Homo sapiens: one gene and its partners. The protein of the gene in region 3 purifies or fractionates together with the protein of the main gene of each other region. This does not show direct contact. Each region holds a gene or a part of one and is shown on either strand. Other genes may lie near its edges.

Region 1 (3,500 bases), on a different chromosome or scaffold from region 3:
TATGAAAAACCCATGCCTAATATATGGAATGCTGAAAACTAATTCCTCCCTCCTAAGGTCAGGAACAAGACAAGGATGTTTGCTATATCCACTTACATTTAATATTATACTGGAGGTTGTAGCCAGTGCAATGTGTCAAGAAAAAAATAAAAGGCATCCAGATTGGCATGGAAGAAGTAAAACAAGCTCTATCTTAAATTACTGATCTTGTATGTAGGAAATCCTAAAGAATCCACAAATAAAGCTATTAGAACAAATAGGCAAGCACATTTGCAGGATACAAGATAAATACTCAAAAATCCTGTGTTATTCTGTACATTAGCAATGAACAATCCAAAAATGAAATCAGACCAGGCACAGTGGCTCCTGCCTGTAATCCCAGCACTTTGGGAGGCGAGGTAGGTGGATCACTTGAGGCCAGGAGTTCAATACCAGCCTGGCCAACATGGTGAAACTCCATCTCTACTAAAAAATACAAAAAACTAGCTGGGCATGGTGATGCGCACCTGTAATCCCAGCTACTAGGGAGGCTGAGGCAGGAGAATCACTTGAACTTGGGAGGCAGAGGTTGCAGTGAGCCAAAATTGCACCACTGCACTCCAGCCTGGGTGACAGAGCGCAACTCTGTCTCAAAAAAACAAAATACACAAACAGCAAAAAAATGATATCAATAACTCCATTTACAATAGAATCAGAAAATATTTAGAGATTTCTTAAAAAGAAATACAAGAATGAAAATTATAGCCGGGTGCGGTGGCTCACACCTGTAATCCCAGTACTTTGGGAGGCCGAGGCAGATGGATCACAAGGTCAGGAGATCGAGACCATCCTGGCTAACATGGTGAAACCCCATCTCTACTAAAAATACAAAAACAAAATTAGCCGGGTGGGGTAGTGGGCGCCTGTAGTCCCAGCTACTCGGGAGGCTGCGGCGGAAGAATGGCGTGAACCCGGGAGGTGGAGCTTGCAGTGAGCCAAGATCGCACCACTGCACTGCGCCTGGGCAACAGAGTGAGACTCCATCTCGAAAAAAAAAAAAAAAAGAAAGAAAATTATAAAACATTGTTCAAGGAAATTTTAAAAGACGTACATGGGAAGAAAACACATATTCATGGATTGGAAGATTTAATATTGATAAGATGCCAATACCTTTAAGTTGAAGTACAGATTCCACAGATTCACTCTCCATCAAAATTCCAGCTGGCTTCTTTGCAGAAATTGACAAGTTGATCCTAATACTAATATGGAAATTCAGAGAACCCAGAATATCCAAAACAGTTTTTCAGATGATGAACAAAGTTGAAGGACTCACACTTCCTGGCTTCCAAAGTTACTACACAGCTACGGTAATCAAGATTGTGTGTAGTAATGGCATATGACAGACTGTGTCTCCCCCAGATTCATATGTTGAAGCCCTAACCCCTAATGTGACTGTATTTAGAGATAATGCCTATAGGAAGGAGTTAACTAAAGTTAAACAATGTCATGAGGGTGGGGCCCTAATGTGATAGAACTGGTAATTTTATAAGAACAGAAATAGAGAGAGAGCTCTTTCTCTTCACATGCATATGCCAAGGAGAGGCCATGTGAAGACACAGAGAGATGGCAGACATCTCCAACCCAAGGAGAAAGCCCTCACGAGATACCAGTCAGGCCAGCACCTTATCTTGGATATGCCAGCTCCAGAACTGTGAAAAATAAATTTTTGTTGTTTAAGTTACCAATTTATGGTATTTTTTATAGTAGTCAGGCTGAATAACAAATAGCCATTTGGGTCAATGGAACAGAATGGAGACTCACATATAAACCTATACATCTAGAGTAAATTGATTTAAAATAAACATACCAAGACCATCTAATGGGGAAAGAATAGTTTTTGCAACAAATGATGCTGAGAAAACTGGAGATCCACATAGAAAAGAATGAAGTTGAACCCCTAATTCATTCCATATAAATAATTCAGAATGTTTCAGACGACTACATTTGTGAGACCTGAAACTAAAACTCTTAGAAGAAAACAAGGGTAAATCTTTAAGACCTTGGATATGGCAATGGATTCTTAGAAATAACACCAAATCCACAAGCAACAAAAGGAAAAATAAATTAATAGACCTCATCAAAATTAAAAACTTGTGTGCTTTACAAAAACATGTATCAAAAAGTCAAGACCATCAGTTCAAATGTGGGGCTTAAGAAAGAAAATCAAGTCTGGGCACAGTTGTTCATGCTTGTAATCCCAGCACTTTTGGAGACCAAGGCCGGAGGATCACTTGAGGCCAGGAATTTGAGACCATCCTGGGAAACATAGTGAGACCCCATCTCTACAAAATTCTTTTTTATAGCCAGACATGGTGATGCACACCTGTAGTCCTAGCTGCTCAGGAGCCTGAGGTGGGAAAATCACTTGAGCCCAGGATTTTGAGGCTGTGGTAAGCTGATTGTGCCATTGCACTCCAGCTTAGGCAACAGAGCAAGACCCTGTACCTAAAAGAAGAAAAGAAAAGAAAGTCAAAAGACAACCTACAAAATAGGAAAAAATACATCCAGTAAGAGATTCATCTAGAATATGTTAAAAACATGTTGGGAGCTCAAAAGGCCAAAGGGATCATGACCAACTAAGCATTCCGCTGGAGGCTATATGATCAAACAGCAAACTGTTTATCATGAATGCAGAATGTGGGCAAACTGATACTGCCCTGCCACCAAAAGGTTTGCTGAGGGCCTCACTCCCTGGCAGTGGGCTCCTTAAAGTTATCTATTGAGAAATCTAGCGCCTATTGTTTGAAGAATGCAGTCTTACAAACCTGCCGTGAATCAAACTGCTGACGACACCCACCCCCCACCCACCTCCACTTCTTGCTATCTCTTTTGCCTAATAAATATGGAGGGCTGTGTAAAGCTCAGGGCCCTTGTCCACTAGAGGCAAGGTGCCCCCGACCCCTTCTTCCAAATATACTCTTTTGTCTCTTGTCTTTTATTCCCGCGTTTGCCCCCCTTTATTCAGTCCCATAGGTCCGTGTGGGTTACACAGTGGCACCCCAAACAGCAACAGGATTGGGTGCTCTACAAAAACACATGTCAATAATAAAAAAGACAAATAATTGGCATTTCACCAAAGAAAATATACAAATAGCCAACAAGCAAATGAAAAGATACTCAACATCATTGATCATCAAGAAATAAATAATGAAAACCACAATGAAATAGCACTTTATGGTTGGGCACAGTGGCTCATACCTGTAATCCCATCACTTTGGGAGACTGAGGTGGGAGAATTGCTTGAGTCCAGGAGTTTGAGACCATTCTGGGAAACATGGCGAGACCCTGTCTCTACAAAATATACCAAAAAAAAAAAAAAAAAAAAAAATAGCCAGACATGGTGGCATGCACCTGTAGTCCCAGCTACTTGAGAAGCTGAGATGGGAGAATTCGTCGAGGCTTCAGTGAGCTGTAATCATGTCACAGCATTCCAGTCTGGACAACAAAGCAAGACCCTGTCT
Region 2 (3,500 bases), on a different chromosome or scaffold from region 3:
CAGTGTGGGACCTGCAGTTAGATGATGAGTCTGTCAGGGGTCCCCCAAACCATAGCAGAAGTTTCAGTCAGTAAGCAGGCAGTGGGACAGTAGCCACGCAAACAGTTAGTTCAGCTCACAATAAGGACGTCTTGTAAATGAGACAGCCCCACCTCAGACCTACATGCTTCCTGCTGATCTCTTTGGAGAGATCAGAAAGGAACCTGGCCACAGTGAGGAACTTGGGGTCAGGACCCAGTAAATGAGGCTAGATCCTAATGTGACAGCTCTCCAACTTAAGGCTAGTGCACCCCGTTGTCTCGTTTCTAAAATATCATTGACATCTCCAGTATTTGGTTGGCTTCCTAAGTCAAAGCCTCAAGATCAGTGCATATGGAGGAATTTGCCCTGGCACAATTTCTGTCCGCCTTCTGAAGGACAATTTCATCTCCCCGGTGAACTGTATTTATATTAGACCAGGATTCTGCTCCTAAGTCTGTGACATATTTTGAGTATGAAGGGGTCCTGAAAACATAGTAGTAGCTTTTGCTTAAAAATCAAGGTTCTTGAAAGAAAAACCTATTGCCAGAGCAAGCTGTATGTTATCATTGTTTTCAGATGAACTCTACATTAGATGCAAATGATTTAATAGACTTATAGGCTGTTGGAGCTAAAAGGACCCTAGAGATCATATAACCCAACCTCATTTTTTTCATGTGCAAAATTAGCTTCCAGAGAATTTAAATGATCTGTAGAAGGGCAGAACCCAGACCAAACAGCCCACTCTTAAATTCAAAACCAGGGTATTTTTCCTGTCGTGTCAGATCTCAGATGTGGGTGAGCATCAGAATCCCCTGAGGGGTTTGCTTAAAATGTACCCACCCAATCCCCATCCCTGGAGATTCTGATTCAGAAGGTCTGGGGTGAGGCCTGGGCATCTGAACTTTGACCAAATTTCCCAGGAGACTCTGTACCCAAAGTTTGAAAACCATTGCTCTTAGAGCCCATTGGCCTGAATTGCATTAAAGGTCTTTGACCTTTCAGAGGTCCTGCCAAGTCCTTGTTTTCCATCTTTTGGGAGATGGGGAGCTATCACTCCCTATAGGTCAAAGCTACCTGGCAGAGGTCTCATCAGACCAACCCTAGGAATGAATCTTTAGCCTTAAGAACAAATTGGAAGATGATGTGGGAATCAGATGGAAGCCTTGAAAAGAGATCCCCTTCCCCTCTTCTCTTGCTCCCATTGAAACAGTAGGTGACCCCAGTCCCCTGGCTAGCTCACAGCTGTGACCAGACCCTCCCTTGGTTCTACTGCTCCCAGTCACCCTGCTTCTCTCCCCGACCCACATCAGGGTCCCCCCGATGTACACGGTGGCCACTTTCAGAGAGCACGAAGATAATCAAGAAGGTTAACTTTCTGGGAAGCCCCCCAGGAGCATGTTTTTATTGTGTTCGAAAGCTGCTTTATCATTATCGCTTGATGACATTTATTAATTGCCCAGCTGGGATGCTGGTCACAGGGTGACTGACACGTGGGTATTTCATAATAGATTTCCCATTTTTTTGGTAGGGCAGCCCTTTGAATTTAGAGTCAGATCAAAGCAAACAAAATTCCAAACTTTAAATTTCCTATCCCAACCTCTTCCATCATAGGAATCCTTTTCTAAACCACTTTCTGAGAGTAATCGTTGCTTCGTGACATTTTCTCTTTTTTTAAATCTGAGTTTAATAGAAGAAATACTACCATGGTAATAGATTTTCATTTTTCTTAATAGGTATTTCTTTTCCCATGGTCATCCTTCAATTAGAACTGCAGTATGTTAGTGTTTTGTCTGTTATTGCAGCCAGCTGTATAAACAGTTAATTACTTGTAACTTAATTTGAATATTATACAGAGCATTTGTCATAGAAGATATAAAACAAGATCCAGGCAGAAAAAAGTTAACTTCTATTTCCTCCAAAGCAGGAGGAACAAAGAACAAACAGCTCTTGCTGCAGGGGAATAGACACATATTGAAAACAAAATAAGTGATCTAATCAGATTTCCAGGTAGTGAAGAACAGTACTTGGTGCACAGGCAAAACTCGCTTTGTGCTTCCCATAAATTCAATTTATAGATGACTTTTCCTTCCTGTCTTATGCACAGTCTTCTCATTCTGGCTTTTTCCTCATCGAAGCTCCAGTGTCTCCCACTCCCCACTTTTCCTGACCCTCCTTAGTAAAACTCGTGTCTTAAGACCAGGTCTGTGCCAGGACACATCTCCAGTTTCATTTTTCCTTGGTTAGGTAGACCTTCCTGCTTCTCTACCCAGCTTTATGAGGCCTGAAGTCTTGGTGAGGCGCTGGGTAAGTTCATCCAGAGACAAGCACCCTGAGTGGTATCTTAAAAAACAAACCGCTTTTCTTCTCTTCATGATGATTGGTTAGCAACCCAGGGTTGCCATCATTTCTCTTAAATTATCAACACAACCAGTAGCTGGCATGCTGCTATGATAGTCAACCCCTCCAAGAAAGCTGTGATTCAAAAATCAGTTGATGAGATTACTGCTTAACAGAAATATTTGAGGCAAGCGGTTAGGATGGTTAGTAAGGTTTTAATAAGCGGAAATGACACGCAATCTCAGGTCTCCAGGGGCGCTGTTCTTATTTGTGAGCTGCCGGTTGTTCTTCAGTGGCTGGAATGAGAAAAAGACTTGGGAAAAGAGCAGTGTTCATGCCTGAACCACTCTCTTCTTTTGGTGATTTACCCAGCTGTTTATAAAAGGAGTTTCTGCAGGCCCAGATACGTGAATGATGAGCAAAAGCAAGGAATTTCTTTCTCCACATTAAGATTAAGTGTTAGCAGTTCCTTAAATGAAGGAAGCAATTTTTTATAACTTGCAAAGCTTCTCCCTCATTCTTTAGGGAATTTCCTATGTTAATTTATGCAGTGTTAAATTTATGCAGCGTTGAAATTCAGCCCAACAGCAGTACTTACGGAACCAATACAGAGACAGTAGAACCTATAAGGTGAAAGCTGAATAACACAGACCCCACCAGACTACGGATCCCTCCAGCCAAAAGCCCTGAGTTCTGAGTTGGAGCAGGTTTTGTCGCATAGCTGGAATATAATAATAACCCAAAATGTTTGACAGATGAATTCATCTTTTTTAAAAATCCAGCCTGCCATTGTGTTTGTTAATTTCCCTGATAGAATTGAGATGGTTTTGTACCACCCCTGCCACCCTTTGGTAGCAAGTGAGTGCAGTTTGACAAAATGTTTATAGATCAGCCCTGGTGCTTTTCTGTGGTGGTCCCACATGTCTTCAAGGAGTCACCACAAATCAGCTGAACCACTGTGCTATCTTGGAGGATTAGAATTTTAATACATGTAACGGTATTTTGTGAATGTGGCTAAAGGGGTTATTAAAATGTTACTTCTTTTAGTGTCTTTATGTGAGACTGGCCTGCTCATCCTCAGACCAGCCAGGCCCCATCTTGTCTCTTTCTGAAAGAGAGCCTAACATTCTTAGCATGATATG
Region 3 (3,500 bases):
AGACTTCTCCTTTCATAACTCCCGGAAAGCCTTGGGAAGAGGCCCGTAGTTTTATTATGAATGAGGATTTCTACCAGTGGCTGGAGGAATCTGTATACATGGATATTTATGGCAAACACCAAAAGCAAATTATAGATAAAGCAAAGGAAGAATTTCAGGAGTTGCTTTTGGAATATTCAGAATTGTTTTATGAACTGGAGCTGGATGCTAAGCCCAGCAAGGAGAAGATGGGTGTTATTCAGGATGTTCTGGGAGAGGAACAGCGATTTAAAGCATTACAAAAGCTCCAAGCAGAGCGTGATGCCCTTATTCTGAAACACATTCATTTTGTGTACCACCCAACAAAGGAGACATGCCCCAGCTGCCCAGCTTGTGTGGACGCTAAGATTGAGCACTTGATTAGTTCTCGGTTTATCCGGCCGTCTGACCGGAATCAGAAAAATTCACTCTCTGACCCTAACATTGATAGAATCAACTTGGTTATATTGGGCAAAGACGGCCTTGCCCGAGAGTTGGCCAATGAGATTCGAGCTCTTTGTACAAATGATGACAAGTATGTGATAGATGGTAAAATGTATGAGCTTTCCCTGAGGCCAATAGAGGGGAATGTCAGGCTTCCTGTGAACTCTTTCCAGACGCCAACATTTCAGCCCCACGGCTGTCTCTGCCTTTACAATTCAAAGGAATCGCTATCCTATGTAGTGGAAAGTATAGAGAAGAGTAGAGAGTCCACGCTGGGCCGGCGGGATAATCATTTAGTCCATCTCCCCCTTACATTAATTTTGGTTAACAAGAGAGGAGACACCAGTGGAGAGACTCTGCATAGCTTAATACAGCAAGGTCAACAAATTGCTAGCAAACTTCAGTGTGTCTTTCTCGACCCTGCTTCTGCTGGCATTGGTTACGGACGCAACATTAATGAAAAGCAAATCAGTCAAGTTTTGAAGGGACTCCTGGACTCTAAGCGTAACTTAAACCTGGTCAGTTCTACTGCTAGCATCAAAGATTTGGCTGATGTTGATCTGCGAATTGTTATGTGTCTGATGTGTGGAGATCCTTTTAGTGCAGATGACATACTTTTTCCTGTCCTTCAGTCCCAAACCTGTAAATCTTCCCATTGTGGAAGCAACAACTCTGTTTTACTTGAACTACCAATCGGACTGCACAAGAAGCGGATTGAACTGTCTGTTCTTTCATACCATTCCTCCTTTAGCATCAGAAAGAGCCGGTTGGTTCATGGGTACATTGTTTTTTATTCAGCCAAACGTAAGGCCTCTTTGGCTATGTTACGTGCCTTTCTTTGTGAAGTGCAGGATATTATCCCTATTCAGCTTGTAGCACTCACTGATGGCGCTGTAGATGTCCTGGACAATGACTTAAGTAGGGAACAGCTAACTGAGGGGGAGGAGATTGCTCAAGAAATTGACGGAAGGTTCACAAGCATCCCCTGTAGCCAACCCCAGCATAAACTTGAGATCTTTCACCCATTTTTTAAAGATGTGGTGGAAAAAAAGAACATAATCGAGGCTACTCATATGTACGATAATGCTGCCGAGGCCTGTAGCACCACCGAAGAGGTGTTTAACTCCCCCCGGGCAGGATCACCGCTCTGCAACTCAAACCTGCAGGATTCAGAAGAAGATATCGAGCCATCTTACAGCCTGTTTCGAGAAGACACATCACTGCCTTCTCTGTCCAAAGACCATTCTAAGCTCTCTATGGAACTGGAGGGAAATGATGGGCTGTCTTTCATTATGAGCAATTTTGAGAGTAAACTGAACAACAAAGTACCTCCGCCAGTCAAACCAAAGCCTCCTGTCCATTTTGAAATTACAAAGGGGGATCTATCTTATTTAGACCAAGGCCATAGGGATGGACAGAGGAAGTCTGTGTCTTCTAGCCCCTGGCTGCCTCAGGATGGGTTTGATCCTTCTGACTATGCTGAACCCATGGATGCTGTGGTGAAGCCAAGGAATGAAGAAGAAAACATATACTCCGTGCCCCATGACAGCACCCAAGGCAAAATCATCACCATTCGGAATATCAACAAAGCCCAGTCCAACGGCAGCGGGAATGGTTCTGACAGTGAAATGGACACCAGCTCTCTAGAGCGAGGGCGCAAGGTTTCCATCGTGAGCAAGCCAGTGCTGTACAGGACGAGATGCACCCGGCTGGGGCGGTTTGCTAGTTACCGGACCAGCTTCAGCGTGGGGAGTGATGATGAGCTGGGGCCCATCCGGAAGAAAGAGGAGGATCAGGCATCCCAGGGTTATAAAGGGGACAATGCTGTCATTCCATACGAAACAGACGAAGACCCGCGGAGGAGGAATATTCTTCGCAGCCTAAGGAGGAACACTAAGGTAAGACACCAGTCTAGGATTAGTCATAGTGTTTTGTACAGCGTCTCGGTGAGGGTTGATTGATGATGATTTTTCAAGGACAACCTATTCTGGTAAAAAAAAAACTGCCCTGTGTGTGTATTTGACTTAACATAAAAAAGCAGTGCCTCAATTAGCTACCATTATTGGCAGCTCTCAAGTAGTTAGGACTTTGGATAGATAGTCTGAGTTGTTGTTGCCTAAAACAATAGTTAATTAATTAGCAAAATGAGGAGATAATGCAGAACTTGTCAGTGTCTTGACAAGTGGCCAAGCGCAGTGACAATACACTTGCTCTCCCTTCACTGAAACACCAGAACTCAAAACTGCTTGCCGCAGTCTCTCACTGCTAAACATAACATTTCATCCATACATCTCTTAAATGATCCTTCCTCCCTTGCTGATCTGTAAAGGTTGCTGCATTTGAGATTGGTGAAGGATTGGATGATGATTTGCACACACAAATCAGTGACGAGTCTTTGAGTACATAAATGAAAAAAGAGAATCTTGCCACTGAGAGTTATAAACCTGTCCCGTATTTGTTAAATTGGAATACCATCCAGTCTATTATTTTATCTTCAAGGGAGTTGCTGCTGCTATCAGTCAGAAACTCGGATTTTATTTAGGGATCACAAATGGTGCAGGGAGAGAAAAGAAAAAGTTAACTGTATACATTATAAACATTGGGCCTACTCGTCATATGTAGAGACAGGAGCAAATGAAGTCTCTTTTTTTTTTTTTTTTTTTTGAGACGGAGTCTCGCTCAGTCACCCACGCTAGAGTGCAGTGGCGCGATCTCCGCTCACTGCAAGCTCCGCCTCCTGGGTTCACGCCATTCTCCTGCCTCAGCCTGCTGAGTAGCTGGGACTACAGGCGCCCGCCACCGTGCCCAGCTAATTTTTTTATTTTATTTTATTTTTTAGTAGAGACGGGGTTTCACCGTGTTAGCCAGGATGGTCTCCATCTCCTGACATCGTGATCCGCCCGCCTTGGTCTCCCAAAGTTTTGGGACTATAGGCGTGAGCCACCGCGCCCGGCTGCAGATGAAGTCTCTTATCCTGCGTAGAATTGTAGTTTGTAGTCTGCAGGGCAGAGAGCTGTAAGCAGTACTCTGTCCCCTTG
Region 4 (3,500 bases), on a different chromosome or scaffold from region 3:
ATATAATCAACAGGAAAGAATAGATAATTTACATTATTTATTAAGTCTTTGAAATCCAGGGTGTATTTTAGTTACAGCACATCTTAATTCAAACTAGTCACATTTCAAGTTCTCAGTGGCCACATATGGATGGGCAGAGGCTACCATATTAGATAGCATAGGTCTAAGCAAGTCCAGAAGTATGAGACCCCCCAATAGCTAAACATGAATGGGAGAAAACTTAGTTTCTTCTAAAAGTTGTATTTATTTTTCTGATTTTCTTGAATGCAATGGAAACTGCAACCTGACTTTTAGCAAGCCCCAGGCCATCTCCTTGCATGACTTTAATCACTGGATTTTTCTTCCCAAAAATTAAATCATTGGATCCGGAGCAAAATGTAGATTAGGCCCCTCAATGTTTTTTCCCTTAAATTATAACTGAACCCAAACTCTTCCTGTCATTAATTTTAATATCTTTTTTTTTTTTTTAGACGGAGTCTTGCTCTGTCGCCCAGGCTGGAGTGCAGTGGCACAATCTCGGCTCACTGCAACCTCCGCCTCCCAGGTTCAAGCAAATCTCCTGCCTCAGCCTCCTGTGTAGCTGGGATTACAGGCACGCGCCACCACGCCCGGCTAATTTTTTTTTTTTTTTTTTTTTTTGTATTTTTAGTAGAGACAGGATTTCACCATGTTGGCCAGGGTGGTCTCAATCTTCTGACCTCATGATCCACCCACCTTGGCTCCCAAAGTGCTGGGATTACAGGCACGCGCCACCATGCCCAGCTAATTTTTGTTTTTTGTTTGGTTGGTTTTTGAGACGGAGTTTCGCTCTGTTGTCCAGGCTGGAATGCAGTGGTGCGATCTCAGCTCACTGCAAGCTCCGCCTCCCGGGTTCATGCCACTCTCCTGCCTCAGCCTCCCGAGTAGCTGGGACTACAGGCGCCCACCACTGCGTCCGGTTAATTTTTTGTATTTTTAGTATAGACGGGGTTTCACGTTAGCCAGGATGGTCTCGATCTCCTGACCTCGTGATCCGCCCACCTTGGCCTCCCAAAGTACTGGGATTACAGGCGTGAACCACCGTGCCCGGCCTTCCCCAGATATCTTCAAAGCAACTGCTAGTCCTGCTTTTGCACATTACACTCTACATTCTCATTGCCCCACTTAACTAACCCTCCCTCATGTCCTTTTCTAAAGATGTAGAAGACTTTGAAATAGCATAACATTTAAATGGTCACAAATCACCTGGCTTGAAAGTGACTAATAATAGGAAAATCAGACCTCAGGACTGAGTTCAATTTCAAGATTCTCCCACTCCACTTTGCTAAGAGGGAAACAGAAAAACATTACTCCAGCCACACAAATATGATACTGTGCAAGTATCCCACTCTTACTCATTCAAATCCTACCCATTTTTTCCCATCGTGGAACAGAGTCTTGCCAACTTATACCTCTCTCCAATAACCCATAAAGATGGTGATTTGAATTTGGGCCAAGATTTAACATTTTATGAAATACAAGAGGAGAGTTTTCTGCAAAACACAGGATTTGCAGACAAGGAGACTTAGGTTCAAATTCCAGTTCTGCCATTTATTACCTCAGAGAGGTCATACAACTTTCCTGAAGTTGTATGACCTCTCTGAGCCTTAGTCTCCTCGTTTGTAAAATGAGAGTTAAAATCTACCTCATGGAATCATTGCTAAGATTAAGCAAGATATATAAGTAGAGCTTGTGCACATGGTAGGTACTTGGAGAATGTTATTTCTCCTTCCCTCTTACTCATCTGGACAAGTTTAACTAGAATTCTAAACAGTTAAATATGTATCAATCCTTTGTATTAAATATCTTGATGGTAAAATGTTAAAATATTGATGTGAATAACAGCTGGTATTGAATATTCAAATTAGGGGAACTCTTTCATTGTTTTAAGATAACATCTGTACATTTAATCTGTGCCATGCAATAAAACAGCTTTTCCTGAAACAGCTTTTTAAAAACTATTTTTAAGAAATTCATAAGTTACTTTTAAGAACATTAGCTTAGAACATCTTCCCCTTTCACAACAAATTAGACATTAGAGCCAAAATTGCCCAAATTGGTATAGTTTCTATCTCCCTACACTTTAATCAAGATGTTTGTCTTTATATCAGCAAAAACCGCTACTTAAGTGAGATTCCTGCATCCCAATAAATGTATCTGGGCATTTGGTACTTGAGAGAGGATTGGGTTTGACAACACCCAGAAGCTAATGAGGATGTGCCTTCTCTCAGACCTTTGCATTCAGGAGCAAGAAAGCAGAAATACTTTGTGGACTCCTTTTCAGACACTTTACAAAATACAAAATTTTAACCTTGTGAAACACAAAATAAATGCAGGATAAATGTCCAAACATTTTAGCCCCTACTGTTTTTGAAACTGAATAAAGCCATGATAGTGAAAAATATTTTCCAGTCAGTGCTTTTTGGAAGCTATTTAGTAGATATTAATTTGATGGGTTAGAGATTGCTATTATCCCATTAAATGAAGCTGTTTCTACTTCATATTCAAATATATTTCAAGTTGAACTTGCTTAAATCTAAAATGCTTACACAAGCAAACTGTGGAAAGAATTTAGTCACGCAAAAGAAAACTTTTTCTTAATCCTGGATAAGTCAACTCTAAGAAAGCTGTCCAGAGCCTACAGAGCAAAAAGGACTTTCCTTCCAGCCTCCTCACCATGTCCAATCTAGTCCAGATGTGAAGAGTCAATTTTGGTTTTAAACAAAATTTGCATGCAGCAGCATTAGAACTAATGAAAACAGTATCCAGACTAAGACGTGCATACAAAATCTTTCACATCATGAGAAACTAAAAATTTGTTAAAACATCAGTCGGCAGGAACAGACATCTCAAGCTCCACTGATAAGGGAAGCAAAACTGGAACTACATGCCGCTTTTAAAAGTGTCTCAAATTTAAGCTCACTCAAGGACTATTAATAGACAGTGTCAAACTGACATGCCGTTTCATCATTAAATCATCTTATTGGTTTGCAAGTTTCCAAGCCTCAGGGCTTCATTATGCATCAGCATAGGACAACACCAGAATTTGGGGACAAAGACAACATCCCTTTTTGAAAGAGGTGGTAAGAATAAAAACAGGTTGGCCAACCTTGGAAGCCACCGCAGTATGGCTTCCCATGAACCAAAAAGGCAATTGAATTGTATTTGTTTTCAAGGCATACGTTTGGAAAAATAGCACTTTTTCCAAGCATGTGCTTAGTTAGAACAAATGATTTATTGCTTAAAACCCAGTCTTTTACTCACACGCTTGTGAAAATAAGAAGAAATTACCTATTTCACCATAGATTATTAAATGGACGTTAACAGTTATTGACAATCGAGTCTTGTGATAAGAAATTAAAATTATAAAGTAAATCTTCCCGTCTTTAAATTCTAGGTGGTAGAGTTCTGAGAACACTTACAATGAACTTTAAGGGAGTAATTGATTATGCTTTTGAAGTCTCCTATATTCACATATTGGC
Region 5 (3,500 bases), on a different chromosome or scaffold from region 3:
ATCGCGCAAGAGGGGCTGCTGTGCGGTGAGTGGGTGGCGGGCACGGGGGTATGGGGAAGGCAGAGATGGCTAGGGGGCACTGGGGATGGCTGGGGGCGCACCCTCAGTCAGCCACCGACCTGCATGTGTAAGACAGCAGTTCTGAGGAGTGTCACTGCGGCGGCCACGAGCCTCAGGTGTTGTCTGCCTGCCCAGTGTGGTCACCTGCTCAGGTGAGGGCAGGAGGCCATGGGGCGGGGCTTCGAGCTGCCTTCCAGAATGTGTTTCTAGAACAAGGCTGAAGCTCTCATGGCACTTATTGTTTCTAATCAAGTCCACCAGGGCCCCTGGGGCGGTGGCTCTGCATTGACGGGGCCCATGGCCGGGACTGGGTGCTGCGAGCACCCTGGAGCAGCTGGGGAGGGGACTGGAGCCTGAGGCTGTCCAGCTCGACCCCGCTCACCTTCCTCCTACCCCGTGCCCCTCTGCCCACCTGCTTGGGGGTGGACAGACCAGGTGGCCGCTGGCAATGCCACTGACTAGCCACACAGGCAGCAGAGGCCCTGTAGGGACCACAGTTGATCTAGACCTCTGGGGACTCGGAGAGCACACACCAGCTTCTAAAACGCAGGCAGGGACATGTGAGGTTTCTACATGTGCATTCCGTGTGTCATGTCACTTTGGGGGTGGTGACAGGGAAAGTGGAAGGAAACCAGCCCTCAGCATGGCCAAGTCCCCCGTTAGCTGAGCCCCAAACTAGAGATTGGAAGAAAGTCTTGATTGAAAAACCATTTCCCAGCCAGGCGCGTTGGCTCATGCCTATAATCCCAGCACTTTGGGAGGTCGAGGCGGGTGGATCACCTGAGGTCAGGAGTTCAAGACCAGCCTGGCCAACAGGGAGAAACCCCGTCTCTACTAAAAATACCAAAAAAAAAAAAAAAAGTAGCCGATGTAATGGTGCATGCCTGTAATCCCAGCTACTCGGGAGGCTGAGGCAAGAGAATTGCTTGAACCTGGGAGGTGGAGGTTGCAGTGAGCCGAGATCACGCCATTGCACTCCAGCCTGGGTGATAAGAGCAAAAACTCCATCTCAAAAAAAAAAAAAAGAAAAGAAAAGCATTTTCCAGATGAATCTGTCACGAAAGGTGACTTGGTGCCCATAATCGTTGGGCTCTCCCTGTCTCAGTCTCCCTGCTCCCCATGTTGGTGGAGAAACAAGCCCCTGCCTTTGGGGCTGGAAAGCAGGTCCATGGGCCCCGTTACAGAGGAGGGTGCCTCTCTTCCTGTGGGGGCTCCTACTGCAGACTTAGACCTTCCCGACTGCTGTGTGCACCCTCAAACTAAGCCCAGAGAAGACGCCTCTGACTCTGACTTCAGGGCTCCTAGGGACAGCTGGTGTCACTGTGAGCCTTGGTCTCTTGTTTATAAAGCAGAGCCCAGTGTGCAGTCAGGCAGCCTGCAGGCGTGGTGCTGGGGGCTCCGTCCTCGTAGCATCGCTGGCTCTAGGCTCAGGGCCAGGAGGTTTGCCAGGGGCCGCAGCCCCACTGCAGGCATTTCCCTGGCACCAGTGCCCACCCCAGCTCATTATGAAGCCCCGAGTGGACACAGAAACTCCATGGTGCACAAGGAAGAAGCCGATGCTCACGGAGAAGTGGGGTCCTCCCAGCCCCTCTCCCCGAGGCAACCCCTCTTGACGGATCCTTCGGAGTGTGTCTGACATGCTCCCATGCGTGCACGTGCACAATTCATGCATACGTGTGCACCCACGCACGCTCACCCTGGCGCGTCTGACTCGTGGCCCTCTCTGCAGGTGGCAGTGCTGGCAGCACGGTGGCGGTGGCCGTGAAGGCCGCGCAGGAGCTGCAGGAGGGCCAGCGCTGCGTGGTCATTCTGCCCGACTCAGTGCGGAACTACATGTAAGACACGGCTTCCCTCCCAGGTCCCTGCTCCTCTCCATCCTGCCACCCTTCCCTGGATGCCTCTCACGCCTCACCTGAGAACCGGCAGCCAGAACTGGGAGGGGAGGAGGCCAGCGGGGCCCTGTGAGCACCGCCTCCACTCTCCTGCCCACGTGCCCTCACGCTGTGGGGCTTCCCAGCCTCTTAATGCTGTGAAAATCAATGCACACTCGCAGTGACAGCCCTGACAGGAGGGGCATGAAAGACGGTGGCTCCCTCTCTGTCCCTCCTGTCCCTTCCTCTCTGGTGTCTGTCCCCCTCACTGCTCTGGGGTCCGTGAGCTCCAACGGGTAGCCCTGGCCACATGGACTGACGTCCTCTTGGGCCGGGCCCTGTGCCACCTCCTATCCACCCTGACTCCCTCTGCTGCTTCCCCCAAACTCCAGATTGGGACCGAGTGCTGCCCAGGTGGCCCCCTAGGACTTGCTGTGACTGTTTTGCCCAGAGGCCCCTCGGACAGTAACGCCACAGACCTCGCTGGTCACCGGGCAGCCAGGCTGAGACTGGCGCTGCTCTGCACCTGGTCTCCGGAGGCGGTACCAGGGCGGGTGTCTACAGACCCCCATGCCCTGTCCCCTGCACCTGCAGGGTTTCCTCCATGGCCTGCAAGCTGCAGCGGCTACACAGCTCCCGAGAGCTCAGCTGCCCTTGGAGGGCCAGGCCTGGCTGGTGGGTGCCCCCAGTTGGGTTCCCCAGTGTGGGGTGATTCACATCTGGTGCCCAGGGTCAAGATGCCCTGTGCAGGGCTCCTGCCCACCCCCGTCAGTGCAAGAACACCATCTCCCCACATACTTGGCCAGCCTGCCATGTGTACCTGTGCGTGTGAGTGTGTGAGGGGCAGAGAGCGAGCATGAGAGGACGTGTTTATCTGAGTGCCTGAGCGATGGCTGTGTGCATGCTCACACACGCTTGTTGGCCATGGGGGCGGGAAGTCCAGCCCCCAGGCTTCCCCCTGGGGCTTCCAGCCAGCACTTGGGGGTCTCTGCTGCACCAGTGAGGTCCAGGAGAGGGGCTGGGCAGGCAGTGCGTGCCACTCAGCAGGGGCGGGGGCCCGGTGGGGCCCTGCGGGGACTCGGTGACTCCCCCATCCCGCAGGACCAAGTTCCTGAGCGACAGGTGGATGCTGCAGAAGGGCTTTCTGAAGGAGGAGGACCTCACGGAGAAGAAGCCCTGGTAAGACCGCTCGGCCGGAGACCCGCTGCCTGTGCTGGCCCTGCCCAGTGTGACAGGCAGGAGAGCACTCCCCCGTGGCCTGTGCTGGCCCTGCCCAGTGTGACAGGCAGGAGAGCGGTCCCCGTGGCCTGTGCTGGCCCTGCCCAGTGTGACAGGCAGGAGAGCGGTCCCTGTGGCCTCCTGCTGAGGTGCTGCCGGCGGGGGTGCGAGAGCGTTTGTCCTTATCCTGATCCCCCCGACCTGCCCTCTTCCCTCAGGTGGTGGCACCTCCGTGTTCAGGAGCTGGGCCTGTCAGCCCCGCTGACCGTGCTCCCGACCATCACCTGTGGGCACACCATCGAGATCCTCCGGGAGAAGGGCTTCGACCAGGCGCCCGTGGTGGATGAGGCG
Region 6 (3,500 bases), on a different chromosome or scaffold from region 3:
AAGCCCTACTAAAAGAAGCAAGAGAAAAACAGAAATGAGTAGATGTATATAAAGCATTTTGCCACAGTGCCTGATACATAGTAAGCACTCAATAAGTAGTAGCTTTTATTATAACTAAGGCTGAAGAGGATTTTAATGCTTTGTAGTGTCAGCTTCAGTAAGATACGAAGAAAATTGGGAAAGAAGATAGCACATTTATCTCTTAACACTTTATTGACAACTTTGTAAAGATATGGTTCTAAAAGCAGTTAATTTGGGTCCTCTAAATAGAGCTAGGGTTTTTTCTATCCATAGCTTCATGTTAACCACAATTACTGGATTTCTTTAAATATGTTTGTTGTTGTTTGGGTTTGGGTTATATATCAAGAGCAATTTTTATACCTTACTGATAAGAATGATGCATTTGTCCAAAAGCCAAAATAAATGGAAATATTACTCTTTGCCGCTAGTGGATCCAGCATCTGTGATAGGGTGTGCTCGCAAAGATTTCCAGTCACTGTCTTTCTCTTTACTGTTCATCCCTCCCCAAGATCTGCGAAAGGATTACAAAGTACCTTTGAATACTGCTAGATAATTTCATCCCTGGGAAATATTTTTGCTTACTGTATCAAAAACAGATTTGCTGTTTATGAAAGATTTATATAATTTCAATATTGTATTAGTTAGGACTCTGTCTTGCAAGTAACTGAACCCAGCTCAGACAGGCTTAAACAGTAAAGAGATCTTATTAATTTATATAACTGTACAGTTGAGGCACAGCTTGACCCTGGATTTAAGACACATGACCATGATCTGATTTTTTTATTTTTATTTTTGGCCTGTCCCAGGTCTCTTCCTCAGCATTGGCTTTATTTCCATGGCTTCAGCCTATCTGCTAGCTCTCAAAAGAAATGGAGGACTCCCTCCTTACCCTTCGTTCCCGCCTTTTCCCTGACCTTTTTTTTACCCAGCCAAGGGTTTTGTTCTCTGAAAATAAAAACCTCCATGGGATCATTTTTTGCTTAGGTCCCTTGTCATTTACTAAATGAGCTGCCCTAAATGTACTCTTTCCTTCTAACCATATCTCAAACTGTAGATCAGAACAATTTTTCTTTGTGTTAGACCTCTCTGTCCTCCTAGGAAAAACAAAACAGGATATATTTTTTATTCTATAGAGAACCCAAACCATTGTTCTGTACTCCTTATTCCCAAAACATGAGGCTTCAGGTCATTGAGACCTTGTGGTTGTAAGTTTCCGTTGTTAAAGAGTTGAAAACATTAAATGAGTTCCTGAAAAGTTGGCTTGATTTGCATGTACATTAGGCCCTAAGATGTCATCCCAGAAGGTTCTCTGTGTGTGTACTGTGTTGCTAAATTATTGATTGTGAGTTGTCTTACTTTTAACTAGTTTGTTTTTTCTTTTGCTTATGCCCATTTTGTTCTTTTGTGTCTGAACCTTGACTTTTTTTAGCCAAATAAGTGACATTTGGAGATAGCTATGTTGGTAGCAGACCGTTTGTAACCATGTAGAGCTGTTGTTTTATATGAAAGAGATTTTCTTCTTTTTGAAATCAGCATAGTACATTTTAGTTCTGCTTTTTCAAAATTAATTACTTTGATTTTATTATTGCATAAGCTTCTTTAATGGATACCCTGTAGTTTTGTTAGGCAGATTTTTTTTGAAAATTGATTATACTCTTTCAAAAATTCTTAGTTGCTAAAATAGAGTTGTTCCAGTGCATCTTTTAAAAGTTATAATCAGTGTTTATATTAAGTCTAATTTGTTCTGCCTTTTATCAAAAGTAGAATTCTTATGGATTATTATGAATTCACTTGAAAAGACTTGGTTTAAGAACTTTCCAGATTCATTGACATTTCCAATACATTATCCAGTTGATTTATCCTTAGCATACGAAAAAAGGCAAAATAATAAACAGGGATTTAGAAACTCAGTATGATCACAACTAATAGGGGAGAAATCAGAAAAACAAACATGATTGCTAGAATATTTGAAATCAAACTTTATATGATATGCTGTATCATTTATAATTTATTATAAACCCAAATACTTAGGTATTATTATCTCTCTTTTATGGATAAGGAAACCATTTATCTCGGGGTGGTCTAACTGCTTGAAAGTCAAATACAATGTAATGGAATCAAGATTTGTTCCAAGATGTAGGATTCAGCAGCCTGTGTTCTTACTATTACTTGAAATTGCCTTTCAGAAGTACTGTCAGGTCAGTTAATGAGAAATGGAACATGTACATATCTGCAGGTAAAAAGACTTGTGGCCTCATTTTTAATTGGCAAGCTGGTAAATGAGAAAAATGTAGAGATCAACAGATGAGAGGCTTCCATTTCAAAGTTTAGGTGTGAGCACATTCTGTGGTGTTCTCTTTTTGCCCCCAGTGACAGAAAAGATGTTTTTAAAGTGAGTTGATCAGTATCTGCTTTGGACCAGAAGAATTGGATCCATCAAACAAGAAATGATAAGGAAACCTTGAAAGACAGAAAACAAGCAGGGTAGGGCCAAAGAAGAAATTCCCAAATAAGAGCAAGAGAGTATTGTTGCAAAAGGCAAGAGCTGATCCAAGGCCACGCCCAGAGGTGCCTAGTACCCCCAAGCAACAAATGGAGTGACAAGTTGGATGCACTTCAGGAAGAAGCAAATTAAACCCAAAAGGAAAGACTGAGATGCAAGAAGGGGAATGATAAGTAAGAAGTTAGTGTGAATTAGTATGTGAATAACTCTAAACAAATATTTAACACTGAAGTTTTTAAAAAATAAGCTAGAACCAAATAAGGTAAATAATATGAGATGATCAAAGCTTCTGGTATTTTCACCAAATCCAGAGTACCTGAGAAACATGGTAAAACTAGCAAGAAGAAACAAGGGAAAGGAGGCAGATAATTAATGCAGGCTCAAGAAGCATCCTTGAAGAGGTAGCAGCAGCAGAGGAGTGAGAGTGTGAAGAAGCTGATGTGAGTGTATGAGACAGACACTCATAATAGAAAAGTAGCAACTGACCAGTACAGCAGTCTGTGGAGAGGCCAAGCCCAATGCCTGTTTTTATCAAAGCAATAATAGGCAGCCTGTATAATCATGTGTCATTTAGAATTATAATTATCTCAGTGAAATAAGGTTCCCCTTTATTTGCCCTAAAAAATCTTAACCAGGAAATTTTTGGAATGAAAAGGATATTTAAAAGGTGGTATTAAAAAGTCCTTCAGTTCAAAAGTTGGCAAACTTTTTCCTAGGCATACCCTTTTTGCGAAGGCATGCCTTTGCAAACTACATGGTCACTGATGTAACATTGCCATAGACAATACATAAACGGATGGGCATGGCTGCATCCCAGTAAAACTTCATATACAAAAACAAATATCCAGGCCATGTTTGCCAACCCCTGCTCTAGCTCATAAATAGTTTGGAATTTATAAGGCACATCGTTTTAAAACCCTAACCCTCAGTGGTAAGATGATGCTTCCCTAAGTGCTACAAGGTGAGTGTGTATCCT
Region 7 (3,500 bases), on a different chromosome or scaffold from region 3:
CTTGAGTACCACACAGAAACAGGGTTGCCCTTACACCTGAGGTGCATTTTTGGAGGAACAAGAAGTAGTTTAGTCATTGATGAACAGTTCTAATTCCACCTAACTACTCCTGGGCCCATGTTGCTCTCTGGGACCTGTCCTTCAACTTAAATCTCAACTTATCACCCAGAAAGTGAGTAATAAAAAGTCAGGTAGGTAAGGTATATATCTTACATATTCACTTGGCCAAGATTGCAGATATTTTAGTTTTATTTTTAAAATGAATGTTTGAGATTACTAAAACATTATACCACTTAATACCAATTTTTATTAGATTTTACAAAATATTTTATGTGTTTATAATGTAAAACATTTTGGAAAATACTGTTTTTTCTATATTTCAAGAACTAAAAAAATTATATTTTGTGCTGTTTGATTCTGACACATAGAGGTTTACTGCAGTGTTAAACTTTTTTTTTTTTAAGTAAGGTTGCTCCCTTTTTATGTTATTAACCAGTGTCAGGGAGAGACAGCCCATTAAAGGTGTATTTTTTTCCTAATAATGTAGCCATTGTAAATCATTAGAAGCCCATTTTAATTTTGTTATTATGAAAGTTATTTATCCCTTAGAGTTCATTTGAAACCCTCAATATAATTTGTTTTTGCCAAAAATATGCTGCTCAGTAGTGAGTCTTGAAAATTCCTTTGATTTTAAGATTTCTAATAAGATCTGAGAATTAATATTTTGTCAGTTGATGTCTTATATTTTATTTTTTATAGGAGAGACGATAATAAAGACATTGACTCAGAGAAAGAAGCTGCCATGGAAGCTGAAATTAAAGCTGCCCGAGAAAGGGCCATTGTCCCTCTGGAGGCTCGAATGAAGCAGTTCAAGGACATGCTGCTAGAGAGAGGGGTCAGAAAACAATCTTTGGGGGAGATATTTCTGTTTTGTATAAGTAATATAAATATGTCTTGCTAAAAGGTCAAATCTAAGGTTAGTGCTCATGTTATGGGGGGGGATAAGGGGATTTTTAAAATTACTGTACATTTTTTGCAACAGCCTTTTTCTTGGCTAATCTTATCATATTTAACTAAATGCCATTTTACTGTCCTTTTAAGTACAAATAACACTTAACATTTATTGGGTCATTAAATTGTGGTGAGTAATATAAGACGAGTATTAACATTACAGAATGGCGGACTGCTTGGGATAGGTAAGGTATATATGATTATTCTTCCTTTAATATCTTGAGAATGGCTTTTGTTAAAGGAGAACTGATACTTTGTGATATTATTATTTGCAATTTAATTGAGAAGGGATTTCAACTATTTGGTTATATTCACAGATTCATTTGAATAAGTAAAATTGTTCAATTTTAAATCACAACATTGTTCACAAGATTGGAGCAAGCATGAGAAATCAAAATATAAATCTTCAAGGCTTTTTCTGATGTACTGATTTTTAAAATGTCACACAGTAGTAGTTATTTTAATGAGTAATTAAGTGTCTGTTATTTCTATATAATATAGGAATGTTCAGAGCCAATTAGTGTGGAAATTTGCTATTGCTAGCCTCCCACTGCTTGTCATTTATTAGTGATGGAAACTTCAGTATGGTTTTATGTCTCCTTTATAAACAGATATCCTGTAGATTTCAAGCAAAATTATGACCTTTATATTTTTAGAGGAGACTTAATTATGAGGCAATACGTTTTTATTTTAAAGGTGTCTGCTTTTTCAACGTGGGAGAAGGAGTTGCACAAGATAGTTTTTGATCCCCGGTACTTACTTCTCAATCCTAAAGAGAGAAAACAGGTAAAAGGAAAATGGCATTAACTAAGAATGTATATCTCTTGCCAACATAGTTTTTAAATTATAAGGAATAAAGTACCATCCCTTTTTTTTCTGATACAGCATTTCAAAAATATAGTCTTGCATCTTAGAACATATTATGTGTCTGTGTGTGGACATTTCTACTTCAAAATTCTTGGATATTTTTGCCCTTATGAGCATGGCTGTTGTCTTGTAAACATTTTGTCCTTATGCCTCATATACCTAGGTTATGTGTAGTATGGTTTTAAAATTGATTTCAAATGCATTTACTAATTTGCTTGTTTGGGCCAATGATGCAAATTTAGAGTAGAAAAATAGCAAAATACAGATGAGTAAAAAGGATAAAAAAGCTACTGTAATCCCAACTAATAGATATGACTACCGTTGAACACTGGTTTATTATTGAATACTGAACAGCCTTCTTGACCATTATGTGTCAGTATGTACATATATATGTGTGTGTGTGTCCTGTAGATAGTACTTGAACATAGGTTTATGTCTTATACACAACTGCATATACAAAGTTCACATCTAAGTAGCATCTGTTAAAATATCTGTTTCCATCATAAACTCAGAAAAACAGTGGATACTTAAGGGTCCCTGTTGAATTAGTGTTGCTTTTTATTCCCATGATGATTCAGTGACACATATCATTTCGTGATTGCCTCTTCTAAAGCATTGCACACTTCCAACTTACTTAATTTCTGAATTACCTGAACTATCCTGACACTGATCTCCATAAAATGGTGAGTATGTGGAACCACTTGCTATAGTGCTGTTAAGCTGTAAGATTTCATTTGGTAACAGTAGTGCCCATCTTTGATATTTTTAATGTAACAATTGAAATAATTCTTCACATGGTGTGTACCATTATGCATGTAGGTCTAATCATGGACTTGAATGAAGGGAGAAAATTTACAATGTGCCAGATATGTATTTTAGTACTTGGAATAGAAAGACATAACTTCCTTAATGTATTTGCATCTTCATTTTAAGCTTTGTATCTTTTTTAAAAAACAAACTCTGTGTGAGTTTTTTATTCTCATTTCAGTTTATGGCTCTATCAAAATTTATAAATTAGCCTTGATTCCTTACTTTTCCCACTTCCCCTTTACAGTCTTATCAGCAAATCTATAATCTACCTTCAAAAAATTTTCAAAATCTCACCTTTTATTAATCATTTCCCCCATTAACACCCTAATCCAAGCCACCATAAACAACCCTTATCATCTGTGTAGCCTATTGTTGATCTCCTTCATTCCATCTGTTCTTGTTCCTCTTTAGTCAAGTTCTTTTTCCACACAGCAGCCAGGCTAATTTTAAAGTTTAAGTGATACTAAATTAAGTCACTGTTCCCTTGCTTAAAACTGTTTAGTGCTTTCCATTTCATTGAGAATAAAATTGAAGCTCTTTTCATGGTCTCTAATATTCTACATAGACTTACCCCTGTATACCTCTTGATGGTCTTTTTTAATGTCTGTTGATTACAGCCACACTGGCCCTGATATTACTTGAACAAGCCAGTCATTCTGGTGTTTGCTATTCCTTCTGCCTGGACTGTTTTTCCTCCAGGTGTTAGTACAGCCAGCTTCATTTCATTAAGGTACTTGTCCCAGTGCCTTCTAATCAATCTAAGTATTGTCTCTTTGCCTTTTCTAATTTCTTTATGGTGCTCATGGCTCTAA

Evidence for each region.
Region 1: the proteins of ARHGAP35 (region 3) and AAMDC purify together in Homo sapiens (affinity purification with mass spectrometry, with the first as the bait; one large-scale study listed by BioGRID). This does not show direct contact.
Region 2: the proteins of ARHGAP35 (region 3) and CHCHD3 purify together in Homo sapiens (affinity purification with mass spectrometry, with the first as the bait; one large-scale study listed by BioGRID). This does not show direct contact.
Region 4: the proteins of ARHGAP35 (region 3) and MCTS1 purify together in Homo sapiens (affinity purification with mass spectrometry; one large-scale study listed by BioGRID and IntAct). This does not show direct contact.
Region 5: the proteins of ARHGAP35 (region 3) and CBS purify together in Homo sapiens (affinity purification with mass spectrometry, with the first as the bait; one large-scale study listed by BioGRID). This does not show direct contact.
Region 6: the proteins of ARHGAP35 (region 3) and MTPN purify together in Homo sapiens (affinity purification with mass spectrometry; one large-scale study listed by BioGRID and IntAct). This does not show direct contact.
Region 7: the proteins of ARHGAP35 (region 3) and TCERG1 fractionate together in Homo sapiens (co-fractionation; one large-scale study listed by BioGRID). This does not show direct contact.

The regions. Positions count from the first base shown.
Region 1 is NC_000011.10:77,827,644-77,831,143, forward strand, and holds part of AAMDC (mth938 domain-containing protein), read left to right. Parts: intron 1-3,500. UniProt on the Homo sapiens protein: May play a role in preadipocyte differentiation and adipogenesis.
Region 2 is NC_000007.14:132,788,591-132,792,090, reverse strand, and holds part of CHCHD3 (MICOS complex subunit MIC19), read left to right. Parts: intron 1-3,500. UniProt on the Homo sapiens protein: Component of the MICOS complex, a large protein complex of the mitochondrial inner membrane that plays crucial roles in the maintenance of crista junctions, inner membrane architecture, and formation of contact sites to the outer membrane.
Region 3 is NC_000019.10:46,919,997-46,923,496, forward strand, and holds part of ARHGAP35 (rho GTPase-activating protein 35), read left to right. Parts: coding exon 1-2,360; intron 2,361-3,500.
Region 4 is NC_000023.11:120,617,601-120,621,100, reverse strand, and holds part of MCTS1 (malignant T-cell-amplified sequence 1), read right to left. Parts: 3' UTR 1-3,500. UniProt on the Homo sapiens protein: Translation regulator forming a complex with DENR to promote translation reinitiation.
Region 5 is NC_000021.9:43,058,836-43,062,335, reverse strand, and holds part of CBS (cystathionine beta-synthase), read left to right. Parts: coding exon 1-25; intron 26-1,789; coding exon 1,790-1,895; intron 1,896-3,032; coding exon 3,033-3,110; intron 3,111-3,367; coding exon 3,368-3,500. UniProt on the Homo sapiens protein: Hydro-lyase catalyzing the first step of the transsulfuration pathway, where the hydroxyl group of L-serine is displaced by L-homocysteine in a beta-replacement reaction to form L-cystathionine, the precursor of L-cysteine.
Region 6 is NC_000007.14:135,946,360-135,949,859, reverse strand, and holds part of MTPN (myotrophin), read left to right. Parts: intron 1-3,500. UniProt on the Homo sapiens protein: Promotes dimerization of NF-kappa-B subunits and regulates NF-kappa-B transcription factor activity. Plays a role in the regulation of the growth of actin filaments.
Region 7 is NC_000005.10:146,481,833-146,485,332, forward strand, and holds part of TCERG1 (transcription elongation regulator 1), read left to right. Parts: exon of another isoform or gene 1-759; coding exon 760-895; exon of another isoform or gene 896-1,707; coding exon 1,708-1,797; intron 1,798-3,305; exon of another isoform or gene 3,306-3,418; intron 3,419-3,500. UniProt on the Homo sapiens protein: Transcription factor that binds RNA polymerase II and inhibits the elongation of transcripts from target promoters. Regulates transcription elongation in a TATA box-dependent manner.